4 linked regions of the Homo sapiens genome follow. The protein of the gene in region 2 interacts with the protein of the main gene of each other region in a biochemical or structural test. Each region holds a gene or a part of one and is shown on either strand. Other genes may lie near its edges. The genes, in order: MGMT, PRKCA, ATP1A1 and HMGA1.

Evidence for each region.
Region 1: of the proteins of PRKCA (region 2) and MGMT, one has a biochemical effect on the other in vitro, tested with the Homo sapiens proteins (2 studies listed by BioGRID).
Region 3: of the proteins of PRKCA (region 2) and ATP1A1, one has a biochemical effect on the other in vitro, tested with the Homo sapiens proteins (one study listed by BioGRID).
Region 4: of the proteins of PRKCA (region 2) and HMGA1, one has a biochemical effect on the other in vitro, tested with the Homo sapiens proteins (2 studies listed by BioGRID).

The regions. Positions count from the first base shown.
Region 1 is NC_000010.11:129,463,217-129,470,243, reverse strand, and holds the start of MGMT (methylated-DNA--protein-cysteine methyltransferase), read right to left. Parts: upstream 3,004-7,027; 5' UTR 2,948-3,003; intron 1-2,947. UniProt on the Homo sapiens protein: Involved in the cellular defense against the biological effects of O6-methylguanine (O6-MeG) and O4-methylthymine (O4-MeT) in DNA. Repairs the methylated nucleobase in DNA by stoichiometrically transferring the methyl group to a cysteine residue in the enzyme.
Region 2 is NC_000017.11:66,297,628-66,305,616, forward strand, and holds the start of PRKCA (protein kinase C alpha type), read left to right. Parts: upstream 1-4,985; 5' UTR 4,986-5,224; coding exon 5,225-5,397; intron 5,398-7,989. UniProt on the Homo sapiens protein: Calcium-activated, phospholipid- and diacylglycerol (DAG)-dependent serine/threonine-protein kinase that is involved in positive and negative regulation of cell proliferation, apoptosis, differentiation, migration and adhesion, tumorigenesis, cardiac hypertrophy, angiogenesis, platelet function and inflammation, by directly phosphorylating targets such as RAF1, BCL2, CSPG4, TNNT2/CTNT, or activating signaling cascade involving MAPK1/3 (ERK1/2) and RAP1GAP.
Region 3 is NC_000001.11:116,368,347-116,376,253, forward strand, and holds the start of ATP1A1 (sodium/potassium-transporting ATPase subunit alpha-1), read left to right. Parts: upstream 1-4,897; 5' UTR 4,898-5,165; coding exon 5,166-5,177; intron 5,178-5,520; exon of another isoform or gene 5,521-5,883; coding exon of another isoform or gene 5,884-5,895; intron 5,896-7,907. UniProt on the Homo sapiens protein: This is the catalytic component of the active enzyme, which catalyzes the hydrolysis of ATP coupled with the exchange of sodium and potassium ions across the plasma membrane.
Region 4 is NC_000006.12:34,232,047-34,239,872, forward strand, and holds the start of HMGA1 (high mobility group protein HMG-I/HMG-Y), read left to right. Parts: upstream 1-4,826; 5' UTR 4,827-4,835; coding exon of another isoform or gene 4,836-4,917; exon of another isoform or gene 4,918-5,157; coding exon of another isoform or gene 5,158-5,271; intron 5,272-5,368; coding exon of another isoform or gene 5,369-6,334; intron 6,335-6,744; exon of another isoform or gene 6,745-6,911; intron 6,912-7,826. Other genes in the region: translation initiation factor IF-2-like, read left to right, coding at 4,200-4,210, 4,529-4,684, 4,836-4,917, 5,158-5,271, 5,369-6,334. UniProt on the Homo sapiens protein: HMG-I/Y bind preferentially to the minor groove of A+T rich regions in double-stranded DNA. It is suggested that these proteins could function in nucleosome phasing and in the 3'-end processing of mRNA transcripts.

The sequences.
Region 1 (7,027 bases), on a different chromosome or scaffold from region 2:
TAACAGCGTAGGTTCACAAAATCCTCATGCCAACCAAGGACCCTCCTGCACAGCTCAAACCTCCTCCCTCCCATATAAATCCTTTCACTTCAAAACAAGAGTGGGGCGAAGGGCTGGCTTGTGCATCATGAGTGTCTATATAAAGACCACTCTCACCCCACAGTCAGGTGATGGTTTATGTGTCTTCTCTGATTTTAAATCCTTCAGGTTTCGTTTAAATAATATCCTGCGAGGCCAGGCATGGTGGCTCATGCCTATAATTCCAGCACTTTGGGAGGCCTAGGAGGGAAGATCACTTGAGTCCAGGAGTTCGAGACCACCCTAGGCAACATACGGAGACCCTGGCCTCTAAAAACAACAACAACAACAATTAGCCAGGTATGGTGGCGCACACCTGTAGTCCCTGGTACTTGGGAGGTCAAAGCAGGAGGTTCGCTTGAGCCCAGGAGCTTGAGGCTGCAGGGAGCTATGATCTCACCACTGCACTCCAGCCTGGGCGAAAGACCAAGACCTTGTCTCTAAAAATAATAAAATAATATTCTGCGGTAAGACCCCAGCTCTTTCAGAAAGTAGCTGCATTAAAAACTACTTGTCCCAGGAAACAGAGGGTCAGGAAGGACCGTAGCAACAGCCCAAGAGCCGAATGAGCACAGGGCCCTGCAGGGTCTGGGAGGCTCAATGTGTCCCCTGGAGGGACTAGAGTCCCAAACGGAAGTCAAAAATCTCAGGGCAAGTGGATCTGGACATGGAACTTTATGCTGGGGAAGGGGGTCAGAATGAAGTGCAGAAACAAGAATAATGCTAAAGGAAAAGATAATGCAGAAAATTCAGTTTTGCCTCCATTTTTTTTCTATCAAAGAGAATATACTGAAAAGAGCATTAGCACCAAAAAGAAAAATGGAAGGTCTGAATCACTGGCTCCTAAATGTGTGTCCTCTGCAAAACAGAACAGACAATTTAGTAACTTTATTTTATTATAAAATACTGAAAGAGTCAGGGTTTTGGTGTCCTAAGAAAGGGTGGGAAGAGGACTGGAGAGGAACAAACTCTGAGGGGGCAATGGGGAAGGCAAGTTCTTTTTCAGGCCCTTCCTACCCCCTTCTTCCCTGCAAAAGGACAGAGGAGGCCCTGATTGAGACACCTGGGGAGGAAACCCAAACAACGAAAAGTAAGGCCCAGGTGATATCAAAGTAAGACCTCAACAAGGTTCAAGAATCTGAGCAGCTGAACAAGGTGCTACCCAATGTATACCTAGGGCTCTATTTCTTTCAACCTTACTAACAGCAAAGCCTTTTTAAAGTAGTGCCTAATACTATTAGTTAAATCCTTATTTTGATACAGATTTTTTTGTTTCCCCTTCAGGACAGTTTCACTCTCGTCGCCCAGGTTGGAGTGCAATGGCGCAATCTCGGCTCACTGCAACCTCCGCCTCCCAGGTTCAAGCAATTCTCCTGCCTCAGTCTCCCAAGTAACTGGGATTACCAGCATGCACCACCACGCCTGGATAATTTTTGTGTTTTTAGTAGAAACTGGGTTTCACCATGTTGGCCAGGCTGGTCTCAAACTCCTGACTTCAGGTGATCCACCCACCTCGGCCTCCCAAAGTGCTGAGATTACAGGCGTGACCCACTGTGCCTGGCCCAGATTTTTTTTTTTTAATGAAGATATATACATTGAAAAGTACCTGAGTATAGCTCCGTACTGGTGGTCTACTTCATCCAGGCCCCTGACTGTGGCAGACACTACTCCACTATTCAAATTCCAACCCGAGACAGAGGGCCCAGGAAGAAAGACACGCGGCAGAGCAAGGCCAGCTCTCCTCTGCTACTTGCAGGCAGACTCCGGGTCTGGGCAAGTATCCTGGCCCTCTGAGTTAACGTGATATTAACAATCAGCCAGGCTCTTGACGCGGTTTCCTTCAAAGTTTTCACACCCCCACCCACCAGGTGCGCTAAGCTTTGGGTTTTTAAAATCTTGTTCATCTCCCAGAGTGTTTTAGCCATTGAGAGGGCCCTGAAAATAACAAAACCATCTCCTAGACACCTGCCCAGGGATGGGGGAGATGACGGGAGAGCCTGACTTAACAGATACTCTATAGGTTTCTATTTGGATGTCTATGTAAATAACCAGTCTAATTCTCAGCTCTCTGTGCTTAACATTCTACTGAGAACAGCTCTCTGGACCAAGCCGCTTCCCTGTCTGATGATGATCTCAGCAGGCATAGGTTGCACACACATGTACAAAGTCTGCTTTCCAGGACAGAAAGCCAGCTACTCAGCTGAAGCAACTGAGAGCAAACACCACCCTGAGATTTCAGGAGATGATGAACCCAGGAGTGCGAAATACATAGTTCAGAACTCCTCTGCGGTGTTATAACCGACATTACGGTGCCCAGTGTGTGTGGCTCTCCAGCGAGCCTTGCTTACTCTAAGTGTTGATGAATACAGTTAGGGTATGATGTACACAAACACCAGCCATAGTAACCAGAAGGCCCCTAGAACTTGGCCTCCAGCAGGAAGGAAATATGGGACTCTGCCTAAGTATGCTAAAGGGTTGCTGCAAGCCAAGGCCCGCGCAGGGGCTTCTGGAAGCTTCCTGGAGCAGCTGGCGGAGGGAAAGCTGGCAGCATGGAAGGGTAGGAAGAACCCGGGGCCCGGGCCTGGGGCTGGCACCTAGAGGTAAGGCAGGGGCTGCCACGACCCCCGCCACACGCCAGTCCACAGTCACTGCAGCGCAGCCTAGTCCAGGAACCCCAGGCCCGGGGAAAGGCTGGGCAACACCTGGGAGGCACTTGGGGCGCACCTGGAGCTCGCCCGGGATGGGTGGGGGTCAGGGCGGCCCCACACCCGACGGCGAAGTGAGGGCGCCTGCAGGACCACTCGAGGCTGCCACCGTCCCGAGGGAGAGCTCCGCACTCTTCCGGGAGCGAGGCGACCCAGACACTCACCAAGTCGCAAACGGTGCGCACCGCGAGGACCTGCGGGCGTCGGGACGCAAAGCGTTCTAGGGGCGCGGGCTGTCCCAGCATATCCGGGGCGCGGGGGCGGGGCCGAGGGGCACGGGGATGGCGGCGTGGGGCGGGGTCTAGAGCGGGGCGGAGCCGAGGACCTGAGAAAAGCAAGAGAGCGCGCGGGGGCGGGGCCGGGGCGCGCGGGGGCGGAGCTGGGGCGGAGCCCGGGAGGGGCGGGGTGTTCCCGCCCGACCGGGTCGGCGCATGCCCTGTGCGGCGGCGCCGGGCCTGAGGCAGTCTGCGCATCCTCGCTGGACGCCGGCACGCCGGCCCTGGTCCTCCGGCAGCGCCGCTGCCCTGTGCGCCTGACCCGGATGGCCCTTCGGCCGGTACAAGCCGGGCGGCGCCTTCCCAGCTTCCGCCTGAGGCTCTGTGCCTTAGTTTGCCAAATGGCCCGTACCTTTTCCTGTCACAGGGATAGTCCGCGGGCGTGCAAGCGACCTGCCACGTGCCCGAGTGGTCCTGAAAGCGCGCGGGGGTCGTAGGACGGCGCCCGCTTAGTGAGAATCCCGGTCCTGCTCGGGGCGGCTACGCTGAGCCCGGAGCGCGAGTCTCTCCCCTCCTGGTGCCGCTCCCCTAGTCAGGGACCCCCAGACCAGCAGAGACCCTGTCAGGGGGCCGTGGGGGCAGCCTCCAGGGCCTGTGGTGGGCGATGCCGTCCAGGGGCTGCAGTCACCGATGGCCTAGACACTGCCAGAGCCTGACTCAGCCGCTCTCCAGAGAGCACACAGGGTGCCAGGCCCTGCTTGGGGTTGTGTGGACGTTATTAGGAGTTGAATTGTGTCCACCAGAGAAGCTATGTTGGAGTCCTAACTCCCAGTACCTCACAATGTGACCTTATTTGGAGATGGGGACTTTACAGAAGCCATCAATTAGTGGGCCCCTCATCCAGTATGACTCGTGTCCTTATAGGCAGAAGGCCGCTTGGGGAGGAGGATTGGAGGGCTGCACCTGCAAGCCACCAGAAGCCTAAGAGGACAGACCCTTCCCTGGAGCCTTCGGAGGGAGCAGAGGACACTCTTCCCTGGAGCCTTCAGAGGGAGCAGGATCCTAACACACCTGGGTTTCAAACTTCTGGCCCCCGGAAGTGTGAGACAATAGGTTTCTGTTGTTTTAAGCCACTCAGTGTGTGGCACTTTATTATGGCAGCCCCAGGCAATGGGTACAGAAACCATTGTCTCTAACGTGGTTGGCATAAGCACCCCAGGGAGTAGTATCATCCCTGGAGGCTTCGGAGAGGTCACACACCCCTTGGCAGGATCCCATCCAAGGCCCACATGTTCTAAGCCACCATGCTACGGGCCTTCTAGGTTCTGTTTGTTATCTTAATGGAAAGGGGTCTTCACCTTCCCGGTGAAGTTTCCCTGTTGGGATTCGGCCAATGCTCATACCTTCGTATTTGTGACTTGCAGGATCCAACATATTAGCATGAGTGATAAGGGTTGTTCAGAGGAGAACTTCAGCAGGATTTGCTTTGGGATGAGCCCTGGTGACAATACAGGCTGCATCATTGATCCTCTGAGGTTCCCCACCCCGACCCTGCCTTGGATGAGACATGTTTTAAATAGCTGCTTGTGGGAAATAAACTAGGCCCTGAGTACACGATATAATGGTCAAATCAAGGCACTTTTTCCCCACTGAACCTGGACACAGCCTCGGAATCCTTCTCAACACTGTGTTCCAAGCAGCCATTCACATTTAAACTAATGTGGAAGGACAGATGAAACATGTTTGCCCTTGGCTCTGGTTTTTTCCATTAGCCTTCTATAAGACTTCGGGAAACTCGTCTGACTTCTCTAATCCTCAGTTTCATACTCTGTAAAGGAGTCTCATGATAACGTACCCTACGTGTGTACAAACTATCCTTCCATATTAGGGCATGTGTGCATAGGGAAAATAAACCACCAGCACCACACCACACTACTAAGAAATAATGCTATACACCTGGCCACTTACAGCCTGTTACTACCAGGACCCAGTTAGAACCGGGATCTTAATAGAACCAAAGGAAAAACAATGCCGAAATGGAATCAGAGTGCCGACTGATATTCTAACAAGTGTGCTGTTAAGTAGTTTTGCAGTTAACACATGACTCATACGTTTATCTGAATAATATTTTAAGACGAATCCCTAAACTCTTAAGAAAAAGAGACTGGCCAGTCTTAGCATCTCTAATTCCCCACCCTAGGAAAGAAAGGCCAATGTGGTCATCCAAAGGCCCTTTAGGAGGGCCCTGTGGGAATGGGGAGGCGGTCCACGAGAGAAAGTGCTGGCTTCCCAGGGAGATGTGTGGACCTGGCCCTGGCTGTACTGAAAGAACTCAGTCCCCTTGCTGGCGTGGTGGGAAGAACTATGTGAAGGGCCACAGCTACTTCAGTGGTAAGGACTGTGTCAGGGGCTCCAGGATCAGGAGCCAAATAAGGGTCTCAGTGCAGAGGGGAAAGAGGAAAAAGGCCACCACCTGACCAAGGACTGGCCTGCAAAAGACCAGGATTCAAGGATGTGACTGCTTAGGCTGTCTGATGAGCAGAACTCAAACTCACACTCCTTACACCTGCTGGTGCAAGCTCCTCCCTTCATCATGGTAATTTCAAAAACCCAAGTTTTCATCAAGAGCTCCCCACGCCTCTCCCCCTTGTCCCATTACAATCTCATCATCGCCTGTGTGTTCGTCCTACTGTTAAAGGAACACAGGATGGCTCCAAAGCCGGGAGGTCGCCGGGTCCACTGAAGAGTAAGGAACACAGGACAGGGAGGCTCGGATGTGGTGCCAGCCCTGCCCCTCACTGAGCAACCACCTGACTTCTCTGTTCATAGGATGACAGTGCAGGACTGGTTGGGTGAGATTCCTTTGAGGTCTCCCATCTTCAGATTAACAAATCACAACCCCTTTTCCTCCAGACACAGATTCCTATGAAGAACTTTTTACAAAAGAGGTGGGAAAACCACAAAAGGGTATGCTCAACTGCAGTCCGACTTCCTCAAGGAGCTCCCTGGATTTCCTTTAAGATCAGCCAGCTTTCTTGTGGGCACTGGGAACAATGTTAATCTGCATAGTTTCTTTAAACATCCAAATGGATACCTTTCGGGTTAAGCAAATGAACATGACATGCGATTGCTTCTAATGATTTGCAACCCAAGAAATTTGTTTAATAAGCCTGTCTTCCCAAGCTACTTTTGTGACATTAGAGACCACTTACAACAAAGCTGCCTTCAGTAGTCAAACTTAATCCTTACTACCCTACCTTTGGGAAATGAAGGGATTTTATAACGATCACATAAAACCTTATGTGGTTTGAAAGCCCCAAACTCCGGACAAATGTGTGATGGTCGTGTAACAAAAGAAACATATTACAGAGCTCCCCACGTTAAGTGTTTTACATATAGTTTGCTTTTAGGATAGCATCTCAAGTGGAGGGTTTTGCTGATTAACACAATTGATTTTCTTAGTCCCAGTGTTCCTGTAAATGTTGGAGCCAAGAGCTGGAGTCAGCGCCTTGGACCTGGGAGAGGCCAGGAGGCCAGGGAGCCTCAAGCACTCTGGAGGAAGAAGCCTGAAATGAAAAGGTGGGGGCCATCGGTACCGGGGTTGAATGCCAGGTGCTTCTGATTACGCTCCTGTGTGACACTAGTTGTCAGCATGGCAGAGGCATCATGGTGTAACTGCAGCAGGGAGTGTAATCTACTAGTGGGCAGGAGAGAGGGCGGGAAGGAGGGACTTCAGGCTTTGCCTCACATAGAGGGTAAGGGAATGGTGCAGGGTGGAGAAAGGGGATGGAGGTGCAACTAAAACAGGAGGGGCTCCTTAGCTCTTGCTTTCCTCCAAAGAGGCAGAACATCCTCCTGCCAGGAGCCCCTGGGAGCTCCTGTTGAGAACTGGAACCCTTCAGGCCCTTTTGTGTCAAGAAGGGCATGGAGGAGAATTCCTAAAGAAACGAACCAGAGGCAGCCCACAGACTCCTATTAGAAAGACTTTTCCTGAAACTTCCTTTGCCAGTTTGTGGGTGCAGGGCCTGG
Region 2 (7,989 bases):
AGGCTGGTCTTGAACTCCTGAACTCAGGCAATTCGCCCACTTCGGCCTCCCAAAGTGCTAGGATTATAGGCATGAGCCACCGCGCCCGGCAGATTTGAAATTTTCAAAGAATTCAAGCATTATGGCTTTGGCTAAAAAGCAATTCATTTATTATTTATTTAGATATGAGGTCTCATTCTGTCACCTAGGCTGGAGTGCAGAGGTACAATCTTGGCTCCTGTAGCCTCAATCTCCTAGGCTCAAGGAATTCTCCTGCCTCAGCCCTCCTGAGTAGCTGAGACTACAGGCACATGCTACCATGCCTGGCTAATTTTTTATGTATTTTTTGTAGACACGGATCTCATTATATTGTCCAGCCTAGTCTCAAACTCCTGGGCTCAAATGATCCTCTCACCTTGGCCTCCCAAAATGCTGGGATTATAGGCATGAGCCACTGCATCCAGCCCAGATATTTTAAATGTATATTTATATATAATCTTTTTAAAAACCCATACATGCTAACATTCTATGCACATTTCTGCATTTTGCATTTTCACTCATACATCTGGAAGATATTTCTATATCAGTACATATAATTAAAAAAAAAAAAAATCTCATTTTTTAAACAGCTGCAAATAATTCTAGCAAATGAATGCATAATTGATCTAACTAATCTCCTGTGGATAGACATTTAATAATTGTTTGCTACTGGAGTCAGTGCTGCCTTTATACATATGCCTTCATGTACACGTGCGTTTATATATGCAAGATACATTTATAGAAGTGGAAGTGCTAGGATTACATTTATAAAATGTATCAACCTTTTAAAAGTACATGCATCAAAATGTTTGATACATTTTTAAATGACAATTATTGCCAAATTGCTCTGTATCATGTCTGTGTGCGACAATTTACAATCCCGCTAATGATGTATGAAACCATTTGATTCTGTACACCCTTAATGAAACAGTGTGTTCCTTACACTTTTTATGTGTGCCCAACTCTTAGGTCACAGTGGGGTTTCAATATGATCTTAATTTACATTTATCTTTTTATGAGACATGTTGAGAATTTTATCATAGGAACTATTTGTATTTCCTTTTCTGAGAACTATCTGTTCACGACATTTGCCATTATTTTTTCTTGGGCTTGTTATTCTTTTTGTTCTTGATTAATATCTGGTGGGATATTTATTCCTACTTTTTTTTTCATTTGGACTGTTGAATTAGCTTGTTTACTTCTAAAAAAATTCTACTTTCATTGGGCTAAGTTACATTTATGGTTTAATTAAGAAAAACTGACATTTCAATGTCTCTTCCTGTATGAGAACAGGGCATATCTTTCCATTTATTCAAGACATAAAGTGGGTTTAAACAGGTACATTTTTAAAAGATGGCTACTTGTGGAGTCCAAATTGAGAAGGGCAAGAACGAAAGCAGGAAGACCAATTAAGTGGTCCTGCAGTGGCCCAGGAAAGAGATGATAGTGCTTAGGCTAGGGTTGGGGGTGGATAGATTTGAGATCTGTCCTGGAGGAAGCACCAATTAAACTTTCTCATGGATTGGATATGGGAGTAAGACCAAGGGAAGAATAAGGATGATGCCTAGGTTTTCAACTTGAGCCATTGAGGGACTAGTGATGCTGTGAGATACAGGAGACAGAAAGAGATCCTAGAAGAAGGCTTGCTTAGAAGCAAAGTCCCCAAGCCTCAAACTCCAGGGAGGCTGCCCACAGAAGCTCTTTCAGTGGAGACACAACCAACTGGAATCAATCAACTGTAATCACAACCAACCAGGGCCTTCATTAACCCATGTGGTACCTTGGTGTGAATTTAAAAATGGTGGCTTTTCTGGGAAGACAGAGGCCCAAAGGTACACTTGGCAAGGAGTATGCGAGTTGAGTTTTAGCCCCTACTTAGTCTCTTGACTGGGAGCTCCTGTGCTATGAGCAACCTGCAGGACCAGACCTGGAAGCCTTGGAACTAACCTCTGACTGGGGCATCTGACTCATCCACTCCTATACAGTACTACCCTGCTCCTTAAACTTACCCCAAAATGGCCCCTGACTCTAGTGTTCTGCTACTCAGGTAGATCCTCACCTCTACCTGTTTAGAGATCTGCCAGTTACAGTGAATCTGACTGCTGCCTGCTTACGCATTTCGGCAGTTGCCTTGCCTCTCCTAAACCTTGAATATGGTGCATAGAATAAAATATAAGCCTTAAGTCATCTTGGTTACCATAAATCTCAGAATGATGCTTTTTCGATACTTATGCAATTCCTATTGCCCAATTTGAAAATGTCCTGGTTCATTTGAAAACAGTCCAGTTAGCTGCATAGAGCAGCAAGCTGTAAATTGTATCTGAAAGACCGCTGGCTTCAAACCATTGGGATTCTGAGTCATCTGTTTGGTGGTCTGACTTTGATCCCAGCCTCCAGCCTCTGGGTCCCCCTGGTCTAGGTGACACCTCTCCAAACAGTGTTGAGCTTACTCCTCAAAGGCAGAGGACAGAAGCGGATTCTGAAAAACTCTGCGTTCAGTCTGACATTCCCTGTTCTTTTCCCGCACCTTCCCCATGAAATAGCAGACTCGAAAATAAAATTTACTCATGCCCTCATGACTGACTGACTACCCCCAACCCAGGGGGTTCTCCCGTCCTTAATCTCCTCCATTTTAGTTATACCATGGGGACTTCAGGTAGGCTGCAGGAGTAGATGCTGGCCCACATTTCCATCAGTCCTTGCTAGGGACAGTGTTACACTGCTTGGTAATTGATAAATCCCCACTCTGGGTGCACAGTCCCCTCTCCCCAACTGAGCTAAGATGTGGGCTATTGATGCTTTCATGCCCAGCCCAACCATGAATCAGTTGACTTCCAGTCAATCATTCCTCCTCGTACCCACCAGGAACAACACTAACAACTGAGGCAAGAATGCAAAGCCACAACCTAAAAGAAAACAGACACATTGTTCCATCTGATCTACTGACAGCTAAGACAGTCACTCCATGGAGTACACAGGAGATTCGCAGGCTGCTGCCAGGGCTCATTCTGTTCTTGTCTTTCCTATGACTTTACTCAGGATTCCATTATCAGCAACTTCACCCTCCAGCTCTCTCCATCCTCCTATGAAAGCCTCAGGGACATAGAAATAAGCTTGTCTTTGTAAAATGTGCCAGGATCTCCGTCTTAGATAAAAGACGACTATGAGAAAAGAAATTATTTCATTCCACTATGTTCCATTTGATTTCTGCTTTCAAGCAATAAACCACCATGGCTTGAGATGCTTCTAGTGTTTCATGGAGAATTGGGACTATTTCCCCAACATGCCCTGCTCTTCATTCCTCTTTGCTTCTTCCCTTTTTGACTCCTTGGACCCGAGGGGCGACCATGAGTGGCGAAATTTCTGACCAGCTAGAATACCAGGCAGGTGCAGGCTCTTGAAGCACCAAGACTGGCTCAAGAGATTGTAAATGGATCAGTCAAGTGCATGCACCACTGACGGCCAGTCAGGAGAGCTTCCATTTGTTAAAAATATAAAGGACATTCCTATCATCAAGCATCACAATTAGGCAATCTCAAAGAAAACAATATTAGCTCTACTTGGCCTATGTTACATGCTCTAAGAAAGTATTTTAGAAAAGTTTTTTTTTTCAACATAAATTTATTGAAGGATCAAACGTGTTCTCTTTCTTGGTCTCTTTAGCTCGTAAAGTCGTTTTGGGGATTTCGTGAATCTGGCAAATAAAACAAAACACCAATGAAACGCTGAGAAATGATTATTTCCCTTATGTATTTTAGCGGCCTCCAGGCAGACCTGATAAATATTCAGCGAGTGATTAGCTGGTGCATCCCCACCTGCGTCCTTTGCATAGCCATGCCCGCTACTCTTTCACAGGCAGTTTTACTTGGTAAGTTACAAACGTACTGGCTGCACTCTGCACCTGACAGTATTGCAGTAATTAGCTTGGGATGCAAAATGATTTCTAAATTAAGGTCCTGGACTTGTAAAATCAAGAAAGCCTGATAATCAACATCGTCGCTCTGGTGGCCATTGAATAACGGGATAAATACCTAAGACAAGTCCTTTAACCATCCCACGTGGTGATAAATGCCCGACGTACAAATTAAAAGTCTCTACCACACGCAGGTGAAATAAGGTATAGGTCAAGAAGAGAAGGTAGGGGAAAGGGTCAATGCTTAATTATTTAAAAATCGCTCTCTTCCTCCTGTAGGAAGGTCTAGGGGCTAGGTCTTTTAGTGCACACGTGATGAAAGTGACATTTTGGCCAGGTGAAACCTCAAGCTGGTACAGGCAGCTAAAACACGGGCGTCGTGCCCTGGAGACACCGGGGGTCCTGAGGATGGGGAAGGGGCTCCCTGCTGCGGGTGCTGAGGGGTTAGGAGGTGAGCACCGGGCGGGAGGCTCCGGGGCAGGGGCTGCGCGTGGAGCCCACTCCCGGACGCGGGCTCCTCTCGGCCCGGCACGGGTGGCGCAGGACTCCGAGCCCGTCGACAAGAGAGAGAGCGGGAGTGGGAGAAGGAAGACCGGGAGAGGAGGAGGCCGGGCGGCAAGAGCGGAAGAAGAGGAGGAGAACTGAGGCGGAGGAGGGCGAGAGGGAGGAGAGCCGGGCGCAGGAAGGGGAGGAAAGAAAAAGGCGGCGGAGGAGCGCGGACCCGCCACTCCCGGCCTCCTCCCCCGCATCCCCACTCGGGCCGGCCCTCCCCCGGCCGCCGCCGCCGCCGCCGCCGCCGCCGCCGCCGCCGCCGCCGCCTCCCCTTGCCCAGTGTTCCCAGCACCGCAAGGCACTCGCTGCCTCCTCCGCACTCGGTCCGGTCCGCTCAGCGCCGCCGCCGCCGCACCCTCGCCGCACCCCCGCGCGCGCCCGGCCCGCGCGCCCCCGCCGCTCGTCCTCGCGGCCTCGCGCTCGGGGCATGCGCGGTGGGCGGTGCCGCTCCGGGCCGCCTCTGCCGCCGCGAGTAGGAAGCGCGAGCGCCGGGCACCGGGCTGTCAGTGAGCCTGGGGCCAGCGGGCGAGCCAGCGGCTCCGGCTCCCGCTCCCGCTCCGCGCAGCACCAGCCCGACTCTCCCCGGCCCCCGCCGCGCCCCCTCGCCGCGACCTCGGCCACCGGCCCGCGCCCCGCGCCCGGGGTCGCCCCGAGCCCGCACCTCTCCCCCGCCGCCCCCGCCCACCCGGCCCTCCGCGGCCGCAGCTCCCCGGCGGAGGCAAGAGGTGGTTGGGGGGGACCATGGCTGACGTTTTCCCGGGCAACGACTCCACGGCGTCTCAGGACGTGGCCAACCGCTTCGCCCGCAAAGGGGCGCTGAGGCAGAAGAACGTGCACGAGGTGAAGGACCACAAATTCATCGCGCGCTTCTTCAAGCAGCCCACCTTCTGCAGCCACTGCACCGACTTCATCTGGTAGGTGCCGGGCCGGGCACTCCTGCCCCGCTCCTCCCCGCCTCCGGGTCCCGGCACCCGGCGCTCCGGCGCGTCCGCCCCGGGGCTGGCTCACTCCGATAACTTGGAACCGGCGGGAGTCCGAACTCTTCGCCCGGAGTGACACGCGCGCCCGGCCCTGACACCGGCGGGCAGGACTCCCGGGACGTCGCCGTCCCGCCACACACACCCCCTGGCGCGAGAGGGAGGCTGGCCCCGTACGGTGGCGAAGGGGATCCCTCTCCGGGCCGGGCCCCTCACCTCCCCGGGCGCGCCCACCCGCACGCACCCAGCGGAGCGGCCGCTTGCCGGGGTGTGAGCCCAGGGGACAGGGGAGGAGGAGAGGCCCTAAGGGGGCAAAGGTTCCCGGAGAAACGCGCCCCGGAGTAACGGGGGAGCGGCGGCGATTGCACTGCGCGCGGTCCAAGTTGCTGGCGAGCCAGGCTGGGCGCGTTCGGGGTGGGGGGGTTGTGTTTGTGCTTCCCATCGGGCTGGACTGCGCTGGCATCTTGGGCCCCTGCCTACTGTAGGCTGCATCTACTGGGCACGGAGAGACTGACTTTTCTGAGTGAGCAGAGAGAGAGAGAGCAAACTGTTGAAAGCTTGCAGTGGGGGAGGGGGAGTTCTAGCAGGCAAATGGCACAAGGGCAGAGGGACTCATTTAAAATAGACCCTGTCGGCCAGGCGCGGTGGCTCACGCCTGTAATCCCAGCACTTTGGGAGGCCGAGGCAGGCGGATCACCTAAGGTCAGTAGTTCGAGACCAGCCTGGCAAACATGGTGAAACCCCGTCTACTAAAAATACAAAATTAGCCGGGCGTGGTGGCACACGCCTGTAATCCCAGCTACTCGGGAGGCTGAGACGGGAGACTCGCTTGAACCCGGGAGGCGGAGGCTGCAGTGAGCCGAGATCGGGCCACTGCACTCCAGCCTGGGTGAGACAGAGCGAGATTCCGTCTCAAAAAAAATGAAACAGACCCTGTCAACTCGAGATTAGACCTGTAACCCTGTTGATGAGGGCAGAGGCCTTATTTAAGAAAAATAATATAAGGGCCAGAGGTCAGAGATCAGGTAATCGCCAATGAATTCAGGCATTCTTAACTCGGAGGGTCCCTGGGGGCTTATGGAGAATCGATACATAGAAGGGCTTCAGGGGTCTCTGAACCCTGTAAAACTGAGGGAAATTGTGTTTGTGAATCTTTTTCCTGGTGAGAGAATTACAGCTTTCATCTGATCCTCAAAAGGTGTGTGACCCTTCTTCCCAGATCCCCGTCACCACACAAAAGTTTTGAAAGCTGGAACTAAAGGAGCTCTAGGTCCTCTAGTTAGAGCAGCAGTAGTTTGGTTTTTCTTTTAAGTTGCCCGACGTCCTGACTCTTCTACCTCTTCTTTGTGGTGTAGGAAGTTCCGGGCAAGACAGAGCTATGGCTAGGGCTTCTTAGCTCCCTCTCCTTCTAGGCCAGGGGGAGCTGCACAGGGTGGCAGTCACGGAGTGAATCCTGCCACCAGCCAGCTGTGTGGCACAGGTATCTTGGGCCACTAGGGTGAGCATAGTATGGATGGCTCTGTCGGAATCCATCACACCTGGGGAAAAACATCCCAAAGGGCAGGTCCCATGATCGTGGTGCGAATAAGGTGTTTAATTTTTCCTTTCCTTTTTAGACATCTGCTCCCAAGTACACTTTTATGAAAAGCACAGCCACCTCTATGAGTGATTTCCACTGTCTAGTCGGCATATGAAGCGACTGTGCTCAAAGGAGTAGGTAGTCGTAGATAAGGCTATTTAAAATAAAAATTTCGGAGCATCAGGGCAAAGAGAATATTGCATTTGGTTAAGAGGAGGTCAGCTGTGAGAGTCCATTAAAAGGGAACAGACTGCTGGTGACTTTTGCAGGAAGTAGGAGAGTTAGAAAGGGACTTGCAGCATACTGAGGCTAGCTATTGTCTTTCCACTATCAGTTGCCCTTGAAGGATCAGCCCCTGGTGAGCTGAAGAGGCGCTCAGGTCACCACCAGTATTGTGAAGTGGAAAATGCCCCCCTGAGGATCCCTGCAGCACTCTGCATTTAATTGTAAACCAACCAATTGGAAGTCCCAGGAAACCATCCACGGGGATTGTCTTTTTCAGTTTGCTTTCATTATTGCTTCTACGGGGTCCTTGATTTACACGTTTATTTCAATATTAAATCACTGATATTTTTAAGCGAAATGTTTAGAGTTAGATATGGTTTTTAGTAGGGGGGATGACTCTAAGTTAATTTTAAAAGTATGTGAAATACTTTGTACATGAAACATTCTATGTGAAGCAAGAGATTATGACTCTCAACCTTCCGAAGAAATTTTAATGCAGTTCATTCTGGTAGAACAATACCTGCAATTGAACGTCCACGTCAGGGTTCTCTGCTTACAGAGTAAATTCTCTAAAGTCATGTACAAGAACAAAATAGCCTCCCTATGTGCTTTGAATGCTATTGGTTCTCAGTAGAAATTAGATCGTGGTCATCTCAAATGCAAACAATAGGAATTATATTTTCTAAGATCTGGTTTCTTAAGCCAACATTAAATGTTAAAAGTGA
Region 3 (7,907 bases), on a different chromosome or scaffold from region 2:
AAGAACTCTCTCAATTGTTTTTCCATGGAAGAGTTTAAGGCCAAGAATAGCAAATCTATCCACCACGATGATGGCACTTATTTCCTTAGTGCTTGTGGTTGTGCCCCCTGGAGAGCAGGAAGGGTTAGATGCCAGTTACCTCCCGCCACCTCTTCCCAGCTTTGGGCTTGCCCTTTCTGAGCTGTAAGGCTGCCTGAAGCTGTGTCTCTGCTGGTTGGATGAAGATGGGACTCTGGCAGTGGAATATTTTTCAGTCCAGATCCCTTCTTTGTTACCATTTGATTTTCTTTTTTTTTTTTTTTTTTTTTTGTTGCAATGCCTCGGTAGTTGTTGATTTGCAGAAAACAATTGGTGAGTTTTTAAATGTAGGATATTGTAACATCACATAGTGTTGTGAACTAGGGTAAGGGGAGTAGAACTGTATTGGCAGAGAGTGCTAAAGGAGAAGGCAGAATCCTGGCTCAGGATCTGGTATAAAACACACAGGAAACAACTAAAGAATCCTTTATTACTGCTTTATTTACGAAGACCGCTATTAATAACAGCAAATTATTTAAAGGGCAGCTGGGTTAAAAGGATGCTGAGTAAAACACCAAGGACTTGATTCTGTTGTGGTTGGTGATAACCTACAATAGTTACCAAGTAAATGCAGACTCTTTCAAATTTCCCAGTTTCCCAGAGGCACAACCTGAAGTCTTCAACCACCACTAACAGGAGAAAATATGTTTAAAAGAATACTAAGGAGCTTTCAAAAGGATTAAGAAATGGCTCGGGGGCCGGGCGCGGTGGCTCACACCTGCAATCCCAGCACTTTGGGAGGCAGAGGCGGGCAGGTCACGAGGTCAGCAGATCGAGACCATCCTGGCTAACACGGTGAAACCCAGTCTCTACTAAAAATACAAAAAATTAGCCAGGTGTGGTGGCAGGCGCCTGTAGTCCCAGCTACTAAGGAAGCTGAGGCAGGAGAATCGCTTGAACCAGGAGGCGGAGTTTGCAGTGAGCCGAGATCGCGCCACTGCACTCCATTCTGGGGCGATAGAGCGAGACTCCGTCTCAAAACAAAGAAAAAAAAAAAGAAAGAAAGAAATGGCTCGGCTGCGCTCCATTCTGGGGCGATAGAGCGAGACTCCGTCTCAAAACAAAGAAAAAAAAAAAGAAAGAAAGAAATGGCTCGGCGTGGTGGCTCACACCTGTAATCCCAGCACTTTGGGAGGCTGAGGCAGGCAGATCACTTGATGTCAGGAATTCGAGAACAGCCTGGCCAACATAGTGAAACCCTGTCTCTACTAAAAATACAAAAATTAGCCTGGCACGGTGGTGCGTGCCTGTAATCCAAGCTACTCAGGAGGCTGAGGTACAAGAATTCCTTGAACCCGAGAGGCAGAGGTTGTAGCGAGCCGAGATTACACCACCGCACTTCAGCCTGGACAAAAGAGTAAGACTCCATCTCAAAAAAAACAAACCAAAAAAAAGGTAAGAATGGAGAGTCTGGGAGGAAAAGTTATAGGAGTCAGAATTATTTGCTGACAGATTTTGATAGTCAGCAATGCACCCAGAACTGTGCTTTTAAAGACAGGTGATATGTCTGCTGCTGAACAGAAGAAAAGGAAATAGATTTGCAATGGAGGCACAGAGATTTGCAATGGAGGCACAGATAATGGCTAGGGGGAACTTTGAATGATGAAGACAGTTGACTTTAAAGCAGCAAGAGTGGCTTTCTGGGTAACGTGGAAAATTCTGGATAATGTGGGAAATAGGTAAAGGATAAAGATGCATGCTTATGACTGTTTCCATGCTAACTCGGGAGCACACAAAGCCAAAGAAAATTCTGTCCTTCCAGATCTCTAGCTCATAGATCCCCAAAATTTTTGTGTCCTATGGAAAATGCTAAGTTGGTGTGGGCTCCAACTCATATTTTAAAGCCTTTAATTGCAATGATGTGTTTATTCAATTCAGCAAATACTCAAAGTGCTAGCGTTCTTGGCTCAAAAAACTGACTTGCATCATATTTTTCATACATCTGCTGACTCTATTCACAATGACTGGAGCAACCATCCACAGTTGTGATCAAATTCTCCTCGAAGCTATCCATACTTGGCAGCCTTAAGGTCTATAAATGCTGAGTCTCCAGGCCAATCAGTTTAACTGTGCCCCAAGTTAGAAGCTTGAAAAGAGTTGATAGGATAAGCAGCAGACAGAATAGAGAGCCTTTGCTTTCTTCACCCTCTCTTCTAGAATCCAAATTTGTCCCCTGCACTGGAGTTAGAAAAGCTACCTGAAAGTCTTGCCACTATTCTTGGAATATTCAATACCAATTACTCCCTGGGCCTCAGTTTCTTCATCATAAAATGAGGGAGCTTGATGTTTCATCTATAAGGTTTCATTTCATTCAGAAGCCACTCTTCCAAGGGAAGAAAAGAAGGCTTTTTCTTAAAAAAAAAAAAAAAAAAGGACTTTTCCTCCTTTGCTTACCCATTTTCCAAGGTGTCTCTCTCATATCTGAGATTTCCTTCTGCGCCTCAGACTTGGTCATGCCTTACCTTTTTCTTTACCTCAAAGACTTGTGAGAATTCAAGGGCACTGTGCATCTGAAATTACTGTGTGGCATCAAAAGCAAAATACAGATTTAAGATAATGTTTCTTATATTTTTTGCCCTTTCTTCACACCGGAACACAGCTAGAACTCTGGGATCCTCCTGAAAGGACCTTCAGCAATTTTCAGTTGCCAAATAAATAGCTCTAGATACAAAGGGAAGTGCCTTGATCTATCAGGGTTATTTTGTTGAGTGAATGAATGAGAATTTTACTTATGAGGGGAGAAAAAGGAGATCAGCTGGCAGGAGAAATCTACGTTGTTCCGACCCGTGCTTTATATATTTAGTTGTTGCCGCGGCACTTTTCCCATTCAGACCAGGGCCCAAGGAGTAATTAATCTTTGTTTTTATTTTTATTTATTTATTTTTTTGAGATGGATCCTCACTCTGTCACCAGGCTGGAGTGCAGTGGCGCCATCTCAGCTCACTGCAACCTCCGATTCTGTGGTTCAAGCGAATCTCCCGCCTCAGTCTCCCGAGTAGCTGGGATTACAGGCATGTGCCACTACGCCCAGCTAGTTTTTTTTTGTATTTTTAGTGGAGACGGGGTTTCACCAGGTTGGCCAGGATGGTCTTGATCTCCTGACCTCATGATCCGCCCGCTTCGGCCTCCCAAAGTGCTGGGATTACAGGCGTGAGCCACAGTGCCTGGCCCAGGAGTAATTAATCTTAAACAAGCTATCTTTAGCAAGCAAAAGCATCTTACAAAGTACAGTAACTGAGGCTATCAAGCATGTAAAGAAAGCATTTTCTAGAAGCTTAGAGATGGATCCCCGAACACTCTGTAACCCTCTGTTAACAGTCTAAGGAATTCTGTTCTGAATTTGGGGGCTCTTCTCCAGGCAGTCAGGGTTTTGAATTCTATTTACAATTCCTCTGCTCTCTATGGCCTAGAATGATTGAACCAAGTCTCTAGATCACTGTAGGAGACATCAACCTTTAACAATACATTCTTGAGGAGAAGAGACTCGTGTAAGAAACTATCTTGTAAGAAGGGATGAGAATTACCCTAATGATGTAACTGACAACACAGTTTCTAGTTTTTCCTTTCTTTCCTTCCTTCTCCATTTTTTCCAGTTTCATATCCTTGTTTGTTCATGCTACATGAATACTTGAAGTTGATAGAGTTGGCTTTAACTTAGGAACCTTTGCTTAGAAAGTCAATATCCTGGCCTTTCCCAGAGTACTTGACTTCCTGCAAACCTTGTTAATAATACTTTGTTTTTTAAAATGTTGGAGAACTTCAGCCATTGCAGCCTCTTGCTAAGAAGCAAAAGCTATAATGACAGAGAAGCCCCAAAGTGCAGTGGAACCAGGGATCTCCGGGGAGAGTGGTGGTTTCCTGGGCCCCCCCAGAGAACCCAAGGCTGTGCTGGAGATGCTGCCGTGACAGGTGGAGGCGTGGAGAGGCACCTGGCAAGTCCTCAAACGCCTCCCCCTTGATTTAGCTCCTCTAGCTAAGGATACGCATTCCTTTGGGTTTCAGGTTTTTCTTCCCTAAAAAGAGAATCCCCAAACTGGACAAGCAGGTTACATTCACACAATAGCGTGAATGAATTCGCTGGTCGCCCTTCAGATTCTCATTTTGGAATCTCGAAGAAAGAGAGGTGGTGGGAGGAGGGCGCTTGAAACTTCTGGCGATGCCAGTTCAGATCGATTCCAGCTATGACGGAGCGGGAAGTGGATAAAGAGGACCCCAAGTCACAGGAGGCACTCTGAGAGCACCAAGCGCCCGGGGAGGCCATCCGCAGGTGGGCGCGGGGCCTGGATTCCACAGAGGGGCGGAGTCCCTCAGTCAGGCGCTGGCTGCAATCACACCCGAGCGCCAGCCCCCTCCAGCATCCCTGAGTCCCAGAGGAGATCGCCGAAGCGCTGGAAAAGCCGTTCCGCCCACGACTTCTGGTGCCGGGTCGGCGGCGACTGGGGGAGCCCAGTTCCGAGACCGTACCGCACCCACTGCGGACCTCCTGGGCCCTACATAGTAGGCGGGTCATGCAGGGCAGCGGGAGGAGGGGCGTGGGAGGGCCAAGGCCGCCGAGTCCCCGCTGTTCAGCCAGCAGGAGCGCCCCGCAGCCCTCCCGGGACACGGTGGACACGCTTGTCCCAGACCTGGGCGCCCTCCTGCCGGGAGCCAGGACTGGCCGCAGCAGGCGCTGTCCGGGCCCGTGGGCGGGGTTTCGGGAGGGGGCGGAGCCAGGCCCACGGCCGGTGTCAGGTTGCTCCGGTAACGGTGACGTTTCGCGGCGTGGGCGGGGCCAGCACGCAGGTTGCATATTTTAGGAAGTGAGGAGGAGGCGCGGGCTGGAGCTGCGGCGGGGTCTGGGGCGCAGAGCAGCGGCGGGAGGAGGCGGACACGTGGCAACAGCGGTAGCAGCCCGGGCGGCGGCAGCAACAGCGGCGGCGGCATCGGCCCGAGCCGCCGGCCGCCCTCCCACCCTCCCGCCCCGCGGCAGCCCTAGCTCCCTCCACTTGGCTCCCCTGGTCCCGCTCGCTCGGCCGGGAGCTGCTCTGTGCTTTTCTCTCTGATTCTCCAGCGACAGGACCCGGCGCCGGGCACTGAGCACCGCCACCATGGGGAAGGGGGTGAGTGTCCGGCGCGCCCGGGGAGGGGGCTCGGGGAGCCCTCGAGGGGAAGAGGAGGAAGTCGGGAGGGCGACCGCGGCCAGCGGGAGGCGGCGGAGGAGGAAGCGGCGCCGCGTGGAGTGGGCTGGCAGAGCCGCGCGGCTTAAAAGACGACGCAGTTTGGAAATGGAGGGAGCGCAGTAACGGGGGGCGGGGGAAGGGAGCGCCGAGGGGCTGGAGCGCGGCATTGCTTAGGGGGGTGGGCGGACCCTGGGCGGGGGCTGCGCGCCCCGGAGGCCGAGCGGGCCGGGGGCTCCGAGAGGCGGTGCTTGGGAAGCCTCGGGGCCGGGAGGAGGGGGCTTGCAGCAGCGGGGGCGGCCCCGGGACTGAGCCGGCATCCCTGAGCCTGGCTCCCCTCCCTGCGACCGCCGTCACCTCCTTCTCCTTCCTTTTCCCTCCGCCCTCCGTGCCCTGAGGAAAGGCGCGCTCCTCCCCTTCCCCTGGGGCGCTCCGCCGGGGCCTCCTCCCGGGCCTCCGTTCCCGCCGCGGCCCCGGTTCCGGCGGGGGCAGCCTCCGGGTTCGGGGCTCCTTCTCCTGGGGACGCTGGGGCTTAGCTTGCTCCGCGCAGAGGCGGCCGCCCTCCCCCAAAGAAAAAACTGGCTGCTTCTAAGTGCGAAGCCGGCTGGGCGGGCTGGTGCCAGAAAGGGTGTGTCTTCACTGCCCTAAGATGGCCTTTAAGGTATACTTTTGAGGGCTTTCTTGGGCCACTTTCCGTAAACACAGGATGCACCGATGGCAACTGGAGTTGTCATCCGATGGTGGGGAGAGGCGTGCAGATTTTTTTTGAAGGGACGAGCCCTGAAGGAGGATAGGCAGACCCACCAGGGCCTCAGGGTACAAGAAACCCGAAAAAGGACTGGAGGCTGCAGGCAATACGGTGGTAGGAATCTCTGCCGGTTTCCAGCGTCGCGGAAGCACCAAAGGGCGGTCCCTGAAGGAAACGAGGGGTCTTGGGGCTGGAGAGCGGCGCGGAGCGTGGTGGGAATATCGTCACAACGCCGCTGTCCTACATTTCTGTAGCGAAGACTTGATTACCCCTAGCTATTACCCGTGCAGGAGACTGGGCCCTGGACCCCAAATGAGCCAAAGTCTAGTTGAGAAAAATTTACACAGAATAACCTCGGAGTTCATGGGGTGAAAGTGACCATGTCATGAGAATACAAATGGGAGAGAATCCACTTCGTTGTCTCCAGGGTTTAGCACAGTGCAGACACTGAGTAGGTCTTTGAAGGCCCTGAGGCTTCTGGGTGTAGACAGAGTGTCGGGAGCAGAGGGAGGCTGCACTCCTTGGGGACTCTAAGGGAGTTTTAAAGGAGGTAATTGAAAGGCTTGGACCTGGTGGGGAGAACAGGCACAAGTGGAAATGCACAACTCGCCTCGCTTTTAAAAGCATGCAGCGTGGAGGGCTGGTCCAGGTCAGGTGGCATCAAAGAGCGGAGTACAGGGCCTCTCCATTCCCCTGATGGAGTCTGGGTTAGTGGCCTGTGCTTTTACCACACCGTCAAACCCTTGATCATTTCTGTAAACATGCACTTTAAAGCTCATTCTTTGTCTCTCCTGCCTTAAAAGAAAAAGAAAAAAGTTTACTTCCTGAGCTAATTTTGGGGGGTTTAGACATCACAGATGTGTGCCCCAAGCCTAGGAAGGTGAAGTGACTTGCTCAAGGTCAAACGGTTGGCTAGTGACAGACTAGGCGTCCCTGATTCTTGAACAGCCTGTGGCCTCAAGCCTGAACATGCATTTACTCTTTAACATTGAGTTCTTTATACAGAACTCAGAACTTCGGATGAAACGGGGTATTTGTGATGTTGAATTAATAGGCCATGGAGATGGTTTGGGTAACTAAGTTATGTCCATTTATCTAGATGTCTCCTTTATAACCACACACAGGCACACATGCACAGTAGTGATGCGGTGGTAACCCACCTGAATAGTTAGTAGAGCTTAAACCCAGATGTCTTACAACAAAATGTATAGTGGCTAGCAAACACAAGATTAAATTACAGCTGCGAACACTGGGATGATGAGCTGCTTGGCTGCTGGGTGGTAGTTAGCATTTTGAGTATTCTGATACATTAAACATTAGTTTACTTGTGTGTGTGTTTGTGTGTGTGTTTGTCCTGTGACTTATTGTGAGCGTCCAAATGTTCAGAAGAATATTTCATGTTGGGATTTTTCCACATGGGGATTAAAATGTGGGTGGAGAGTGACTAAAGCCCTGCTGATAATTGGCTAACAAGGAAGCCTGTGCCGGCAGCTAATTTTTAAGGTCATTGTAAATTTCTTCCCCTCCTCTCCTCAGTACCCTTTGTGGCCTAGCTTTTGATGATATTTCAGGTGATTTTATATGTCCTTAAAAGTCTAGTTCCTAAGCATTTGGTAAGAAAATGAAAGAACAGCTCTTGCTGAATCATTCCTGGATGAAATAGGATTTTGTCCCTTTTTTTCTTTCTGGGTTTTATTGCCAGTGACTTGGCTTAAACCGTCAGCTAGGCCTACCACCGGCAACTGTTTCACTCACCAAAGGTACACGCCATAACTGTTTAGAAATGTGGGAAAGTTTGTCTTCTCAAGTGTGTAAAAGATGAGGAGGGGGGGTCTCACCAGGTCTTTCACTGCATTCCGGATTTAGTTTGAATATTATTTACCGAAAAAATAAATCATAGCTTATGAGTAGTGATTTAAGGAAGG
Region 4 (7,826 bases), on a different chromosome or scaffold from region 2:
CACAGGCCCAAGTCCAGCCCCATGCCAAACACCCTACTGCTCCCACCTGCCTGCTTCCTAGGCCTCCTGGGATGCTCCACCCACACCCTGGGCCCCTGCCCTGTGCTTCCTCAGGCTGGCATTACAGCATGTACCACGCTGGTGGAATTGCCTGTGTACTTGTCTATCCCCTCGTGCACCCCACTCAATGCAAGCCCCTTGAGGACAGGAATGTAGCTACCCATTTCAAGGCCACACCCTTGGTGGTGGTACGTGGAGGGATCCATCTGGCCAGGCTGGGAGGAGGCAGCAAGCCCATCCAGCCTGGGAATAGAAGCAGTAGAGCGGAAAGAGGCAAAATCCTTAGCTATTTATATTTAACTGCCCCAAGACTTGTTTGGTTATTTTTTTGAGAGGGAGTCTCACTCTGTTGCCCAGGCTGGAGTGCAGTGGCGCCATCTTGGCTCACGGCAACCTCTACCTCCCAGGTTCAAGTGATTTTCCTGCCTCAGCCTCCCGGCTAGCTGGGATTACATGCACGCGTCACCAAGCTCGGCTTATTTTTGTATTTTTAGTAGAGACGGAGTTTCCCCATGTTGGTCAGGCTGGTCTCGAACTCCTGACCTAAGGTGATCCGCCCACCTCAGTCTCCCAAAGTGCTGGGATTACAGGCTTGAGCCACCACACCCGGCCAAGACCTGGTTTTAATACCTGTGAAATGGGGCAACAGTATCACTCACCAGTAGGGATGTGGAGGATCTGAGAGAACATGTGCATTCAGTATATGCTTATCAACTCCACTCTCTCCTTAGATTTCTTCAGGGGTTGGAGAGGAGCTGGGCTTCCTTGGGGATTTAGCCCTGAAGAAGTAAGCTGACAAGTCCATGGCATCTTGGGGCCATGCAAGGTGGGTCATTAGCTCACAGTAGGAAGGCGGAGAGGGCCCTGATTCCTGGGCCCTCCTTTTCACTTGAGAGTTTTTCCCTCGAAAGTTGGAAGCAGCAGAGGCCCTCCTCCCCTTCTAGGCCTGCCAGCCTTGCTGGCAGCAGAACTTGTGGTCAGCAGAGCCTGGAAGCCTGATCCTGCCAGATGACCAGATGCACTAGTAGCTGGGTGACTCTTGAGGAGAGTGGTCAAACATTGTGTACCAGGGTAGCCCCACCTCCTACCGGCCTGGGTCAGTCCTGGTTGATAGGGGCCAGGTCAGGTTTATGCCTGTTGTCTGGCCATAAGTATTAATAGTGCCGCTTTCACTCTGAAGTGCCCTGCTCGTCTGCTGAAGCTGAGCATACACATCCTGTGATCCAATAATTCCTCTCCTAGGCACGTACGCAACAGAAATTTGCACATCTACTCACCTATATTCTAGAACATTCATGGCAGCACTATTCATAATAGCCCCCCGCCAGAAACTATCCAAATGTCCTTCAACAGAATGGATATAAAATTGTGGTACATTCATATCACATCACTAAGCAGCCCTGAGAATGAACATTCTGCAGCCACACACAATAGCATGGATGAACCTCACAGACATAAGGGTAAGCAAAGGAAACTAACCCAGGAGAATACATAATGTAAGACTCCATATCCCTACGTGTGCACGAACAGGTGAAACGAAGCGCTGCTTAAGTTGAGATGGTGGTTACACAGGGGTACTGGAGATGTTGTATTTCTTGGTCTGCATGCTGGTGACACAAAGGTGTTCACTTTGTGAAAATGCATCAAGCTGAATACTTAATAGAACTAAATGGAACCATCCACATTAGTTTTTTCACCTACTCATCTAGAAAATGAGCTTAAGAGTCAGCGTCCCAAAATATAAAGTTGACTCAAACTCCCCATTCCCTGGACATTCCCATTGGGTTCACTGAAGCTCACTGGGTCGTCCTTGAGCAAACTGTATAGACTGACTCCAATAACAGAAAATGCTTCCTGTGGGGAAGACGGGTTCTGGTATCGACCAACTCAACCCCCCGGGCCTTGACCATGTCCTTGGCCTGGAATAGCTCCCTCTTCCTGCTTGCCCTGTCCCCAACTCCTCAGCCACCCACCTATCCAAGTCTCACGAAGGCCTGCTCAAGCCCGTCTCCTCCAGGACTTCCCTGACCACCCTGGGCTCCCATCCTCTCCTCCTGTATTTCCTCCTAAGTCTGTAAGCGCCTGACCCCTTGGTCCAAGTTTCAAGAGTGCAGGGGACTTTGTTCATTAATTGTACCCCAAGAATTTGGCCCAGTTCCTGCTACAGAGTAGGTTCTCAATAACTACTGAATGAAATGTTTTCTAACATGGCATCTCCTGTACTGCTATTCAGTTTTCTCTAGTGCAGGCCTGATTCTGATTTCCCTAGACGTGAAATTCGCTGGGACAAGGACTAGATCCTACCCATCTTTTTATCTCTACCACTCGCTCTTCTGCTTAATACTTATTTAAAGGGGAAAGAAAGGAAAGACAGTGAATTCAGGGCATTGACAATCCAGAAAGCGTGGAGGTGGGGGTCAGTGAGTAGAGAGTTATTTGGATTTCAAGGGTGTGGGTAATCCTGGAGAGGAACAAGCTACTATATTTATTTGCCTACGAATTTATTTATACCTGCCTCCTTCCAGAAAGGGTTTGAGGTGGCTGACAAAAATACACACAATACAAGGTAAAAAACAAGTCGCTGAGGAAATCAGGCCGAGAGGAAAATAAGAGTAGGAAAAATAAGATCGAGTCGGCTTGCTACAAGTGGGCCAAAAAGTTGGCCAAGTTTTCCACAGCCCACTCGAGGCGGAAGTCCCTCTCCCCTCCCCGTCTCAGGGGCGGCCACACGTCCCACACGGACGGGGAGAGATGTACCCGAGAGAGAGGGCGGACAGGACCCTCTCCGCACCTCCCCAGCCGCCAGGCCGCCAGCCCGGTGCCCGGGCCTAGCAGCCTCCGCGGCCTTGGAGAGCGCGAAGTGGAGGGGCGCGCGGCTCTGGGGGGCAGCCCGAGCCCAGACCTGGGTCCCAAGGTGCTGGCGGGGAGCCTGTGACCTGGGACGGGGTGCTGGAGGCTGAGGAATCGCGCCTCCATGCCACGCCGCAGAGGTTCCCGCGCTCGAAACCGAACGCCCTCCAGCCACCACCACTCACGGCCTACTAAGCGCGCGCTCCGGGCCCAGGGCACAAAGATGGAGGGAGCGGCGCGATCCACCCGCCCCACCCCCACCCACCAGACAAAGGGGCAGGCCGCCCCTCCCCCAGCCTTCTTCGCGGGCCCCGCCGCCCTCTGCTCCCCTCCCCTCGGGCCGCCCTTTGGTGACTTCCTTTCCCCTCCAAGGGCGGCCCCGGGACTTCTCAGGAACTGCGTTTCACCTGGACGTGGGGCGGGGAGCCGGCGCGCAGAGGGCGGCCTCCGGGCCCACCCCTAGGCCGAGCCGGCCCCAGGCCCGCGCCCTCCCCTTTGAACCCGCGCTCCCGGCCCCTGGCGCCTTCCCGCCCAGGCGCCCCCGCCCCCACCCGGTCAAGCACGTGCTGCCCGGGCCCCGAGCGCTTCCCGCCGCACGGGTGGGGGCTGGGCCCACCCCCCGCCCGCTCCCCACCCCCACCGGAAACATTCCTGCCACATTCCTGCAACTGCAAGGCCCAGCCCGCCGCTCCCCACCCCGCCTCCGCGCCGGGCCCAGGGCTTTCCTGCGTCCCCTCCACCGCCGGCTCGCCCCCTGAGGAGGGGGCTGGGCCAGGGCCTCGGCTGACCGGGGAGGAAGAAGGGGAGCAGAGAAAAACATGAGTCACAGCCGTGTGTCACTGGAGCGCATTTCAATTCCCTGCATCACAGGAGGTGTGGAAGGCCGCCTCGGGGACCGGGCGCGGGAGGTGCGCCCGAGAAGGCCCCGGGCCGGCCTGCAGGGCGCGCCGCTCCGCCTGCGCCCTTTCCTCCCCCACCGCCCTCCCCGCCATCTTCCCCTTTGGCTTCCTTCTCGCTCGGTGCAACAAGTCTTTGTTAAGCCGGGCGCCGGGCGGGCCAGGCGTGGCGGAGATGGCCTGCGTGCTCGGCCCCTGCCCTCAAAGCGCTTCCAGGCGACCTCTGGCCCACCTTTTATTTTTATTTACAGTCCCAACGGAAGGGCCCAGGTCCCCAAGTGGGCCTGCGTATCTCCAGAACACCATCTAAGTCACCTCAAGGTATGAAGCCTCCCTTGGGTGTACCTGCCAACGAGCCAATCGTTGGTTTCGCTGGAAGGCTCCACCTTGATCATGGCTCGCTGGTGGCCATTAATAAAACACTTTGGATTTCACAAGTTTCACGTTTGAATTTCACAAGACTTGTATCTCACCAATCAGCCACACGCGGGTTGACACTGAAAGGCACATGCTGACACCTGTCCGCCCAGGGGAAATCTACCATCTCTCTATTTTAGTTAGGGGGCGGCGTGTAGGCCGCGGAATTCTCTAACGAGCGCGTTTCTCTTCACCCCCTGGGCCCGCGTGGACCCCCGTCCACCCCCACACGCCCTGGGGGGGGGGCCGGGCCCACACGCCCTGGAAGCCCCTAGAGGTGACTCTCCCTGGGACCCCTGTACCAGGGAGGAAGGATACCGCCACCCGTCACCACCCCCCGCCAGAAGCTCCTTCGTGACTCCTCTGCGCGTGCCTTCCCACACCTCCTCCGTCCGGGACTGCGAGGAGTGGGCGGTCGACTCGAGTTCGCAGCCCAGGCCTCCCACACGCCCCTCCCTGCCGTCAGCACCCACCCGCGCGGCAGCGGCGGCGGCGGCTGGCGGGCGGCCGCCCTTTTAAATCCCCGGGCTCATTTGCATGGCCCCGCCCCCTGAGTGACACGGCTGGCGCGGGCGGGCCCGTCCCCCCTGCCCCTGGGTCGCTCTTTTTAAGCTCCCCTGAGCCGGTGCTGCGCTCCTCTAATTGGGACTCCGAGCCGGGGCTATTTCTGGCGCTGGCGCGGCTCCAAGAAGGCGTGAGTTCGCGGCCGCTCCGGTGGCTTCTTTTTTTTATATCTATAATTTAATTAAATTATTTATTTATTGAGGCCGCGCACGGGCCGTGCCCAGCTTCCTGCCCCTCGCCATCCTTCGGGGGAGGGGGAATATTTTTGTCCCCCCGCCTGGCTGTGACACATAAATACCCCGCGGGGGCCTGGGCGGCGAGCACGCGGCGGCGGCGGTCTCTGAGCGCCTCTGCTCTCTCCCGGTTTCAGATCCGCATTTGCTACCAGCGGCGGCCGCGGCGGAGCCAGGCCGGTCCTCAGCGCCCAGCACCGCCGCTCCCGGCAACCCGGAGCGCGCACCGCAGGCCGGCGGCCGAGCTCGCGGTGAGTCGTCCCCGGGGCCCGCGGCGGCGGCGGCGGAGGGGGGCGCCCGCGCCCCCGCCCGCACGTCGCCCCTCCTGCGAGCCGCCCGGGGCTGCAGCGCGCGCCGCCGGCTTTATTCCCAGGCCGGGGCGGCGCGAGCCGGCGGCGGGGGAGGGCCGCGCGGCGCGGGGGCGGGCGGCGGGGCCCGGCGGCGCGGGGAGGACGCCCGCACCCCTTCCCCCGCGCCGCGGGCGCCCTGCGGGGGGCGGGGACCCGGGAAAGGCGCGCGGTGGGGGAGGGGGCGCGCAGCTGCGGCGAGCGCGAGTTGTGCACCCGGCGGAGCCCGGAGGAGCCCGGCGCACCTCGCGCGGCGGCCGCTCCCGCTGGAGCCGGAGCCCGAGCCCGAGCCCGGGCCCGGGTGAGGGGCGGGGAGAGACACGGGCTGCGGCGCGGCAGGAGAGTGGGGGGTCGGGCGCCCCCCGCAGCTCAGGGAAGTTCTGGAAGTGAGGGAGATGGGGAGGAACCCCCAAATTCGGCCCTACGCCCTCTCGGCCTTTCTCTCGCGCCCCCTCCGCAGATGAGGCCGGAGCGCGGGCCTGGGTTTGGGGCTTCACCCCGACCCCACCTCTGGCCTGGCCCGCGCCTCTTCAGCCCCAGGGGCCGGGCCTGCCCTCCGCCCCCACAAACTGGTTTCGCTGCTTTGCTGGGCTCTGTTGGAACTAGTCCCTTTGACTCCCCGTTTCTATTTTATTTTCTTCTGGGGCTTTATTTTGCGGGGAGGGGACGGAGGGAGGGGGCTTTCTTCCTCTCCCCCGCGCCCGCGCGCGCCAGGTTTCCTGCCCCAAGGCGGGCTTGGGTGCCCCCTCTGGCAGGAAGTGGGGCCGGGTGCACCCGCGTGGCGGTGCATGCGGTCGGGGTGCGCTGCTTTCCCGCGCCTGCAGGAGCGGCCTGCGCCCCTCCCCCCGCGCGCCCTGGCCCCGGGTCCCGCCGGCCGGCCTGCAACGGCCGGGCGCAGACACTTGCAGAGTCACCCTCGGGCCGGGTCTGGAGCCTGATGCCTCGGGGGTTTAGCCCTAGCCGCTAGGCGGGTAGGCAAAGTGTCGGGTTGAAAGGGTCTCCGGGAACCTACTTCTTCCTGCTCGCCAACTTGCTGTGTGACCTTAGGCAACTCAAGGCTTCTCTGGGCTACTTTTTTACGGGGGACGGGGAAGAAAACAAGGGAACCCCCAAGATAATTTCCTAGGGCCTTTCCTGCAGAGTCCTTAAGTATTTGAGGAGCACAGTTTGCATGCACAGTGTATGGAGGAGACAGGCTTGAGGCCCAAGCGGGCTTATTACAAAGTGAGGGATTGGGGTTAGGCCCTAAATGTAGTTCCTCCAAGACAGGCCTCTGATGTTCAGAAACAGGTGGAAAAGACGAACGTTTCTTGGCCTCACTGGAAAGGGCCTCGGGCCTTCATTTAGTTCGTGGGGGGTTGGCTGAGGGGATTAAAGGGTCCCCAGCAGCAAGAGGTGGGGGGAGGCACCAGATGGTATGAGAGCTTCCAGGGAGACCCGCCAAGATCTCCAGGCAGGCCGGGCCAGGCTCTCTGGGATTCCGGACTGGCTTCGCCCAACTGGAACCCCCTCGATGAGGGGGCCCCAGGCAGACCTTATATGAGGTCAGCACTCGTTTAGTTGATTAATTTTGATGTTTAGTTTGAAGGGGGACCTGTGGTGTAATATAAGATTCTAATCACTGCCTGTAATTGCAGAGCAGGCCAAGCCACTAATGACGGAGCAGGATAAATCACCAACCACCTTGTTTAAAAGGGTCTCCAAGTCTGAAACATTATAAGATAGAATAATTACCAAAGTCCTGCTGTCTGGAGGGTCTCTTGATGCTTGAAAATGGAGGTCCTGGGCCCTCTAGAAATCACAAGTTTGCAAAAATGTTTTTTTCCTCTCATTGGGGTAAAAACTCTTTTTCTTCTTTTTTTTTTTTCTTTTAAATTAGACATGGGAGTCCCACCGTATTGTCCAGGCTGGTCTCGAACTCCTGACCTCAAGCAGTCCTCCTGCTTTGGCATCCCAAAGTGCTGGGATTACAGGCATGAGTCACCTCACCTGGCCCATAAATCATTTTCAAATGGTCTAGTTCTTATTTTGGTTAGAGTGAAGATTTCTTTCTATTATTTTAAGTTTTTCTAAACTATTACCTAGTTTGATCCTTGAAGCAGTCAGGAGGTAGTTCAGGCAGGTACCTTATAATTACCTTGATCTTACAGATTGAGAGGGGTTCAGAAGTGGAGCCGCTTGTCCCACCCCTTACCATGGCAGGCAGGGATTGGTTACTGGAAAAATGTGTAGCCTAGGCCTCCGGCGTCTCATCCATCTGTAGCCTGGGGATAAGGACTAGGATGAAGATGTGGAGGACTGTCCTTTTTAAGCCTGTAATACAGGGTATTCCCAAATACAGGTTGCAGGCCCTCCTTCCAATGAGAAGTTTTAGGAAAACTCAAAATTGATGGGGTTAATTAAACCCCAACAGGCCTCTAAGAAGAAGGAAGATGCTAGAAAATGACCAAGAAGGTTTT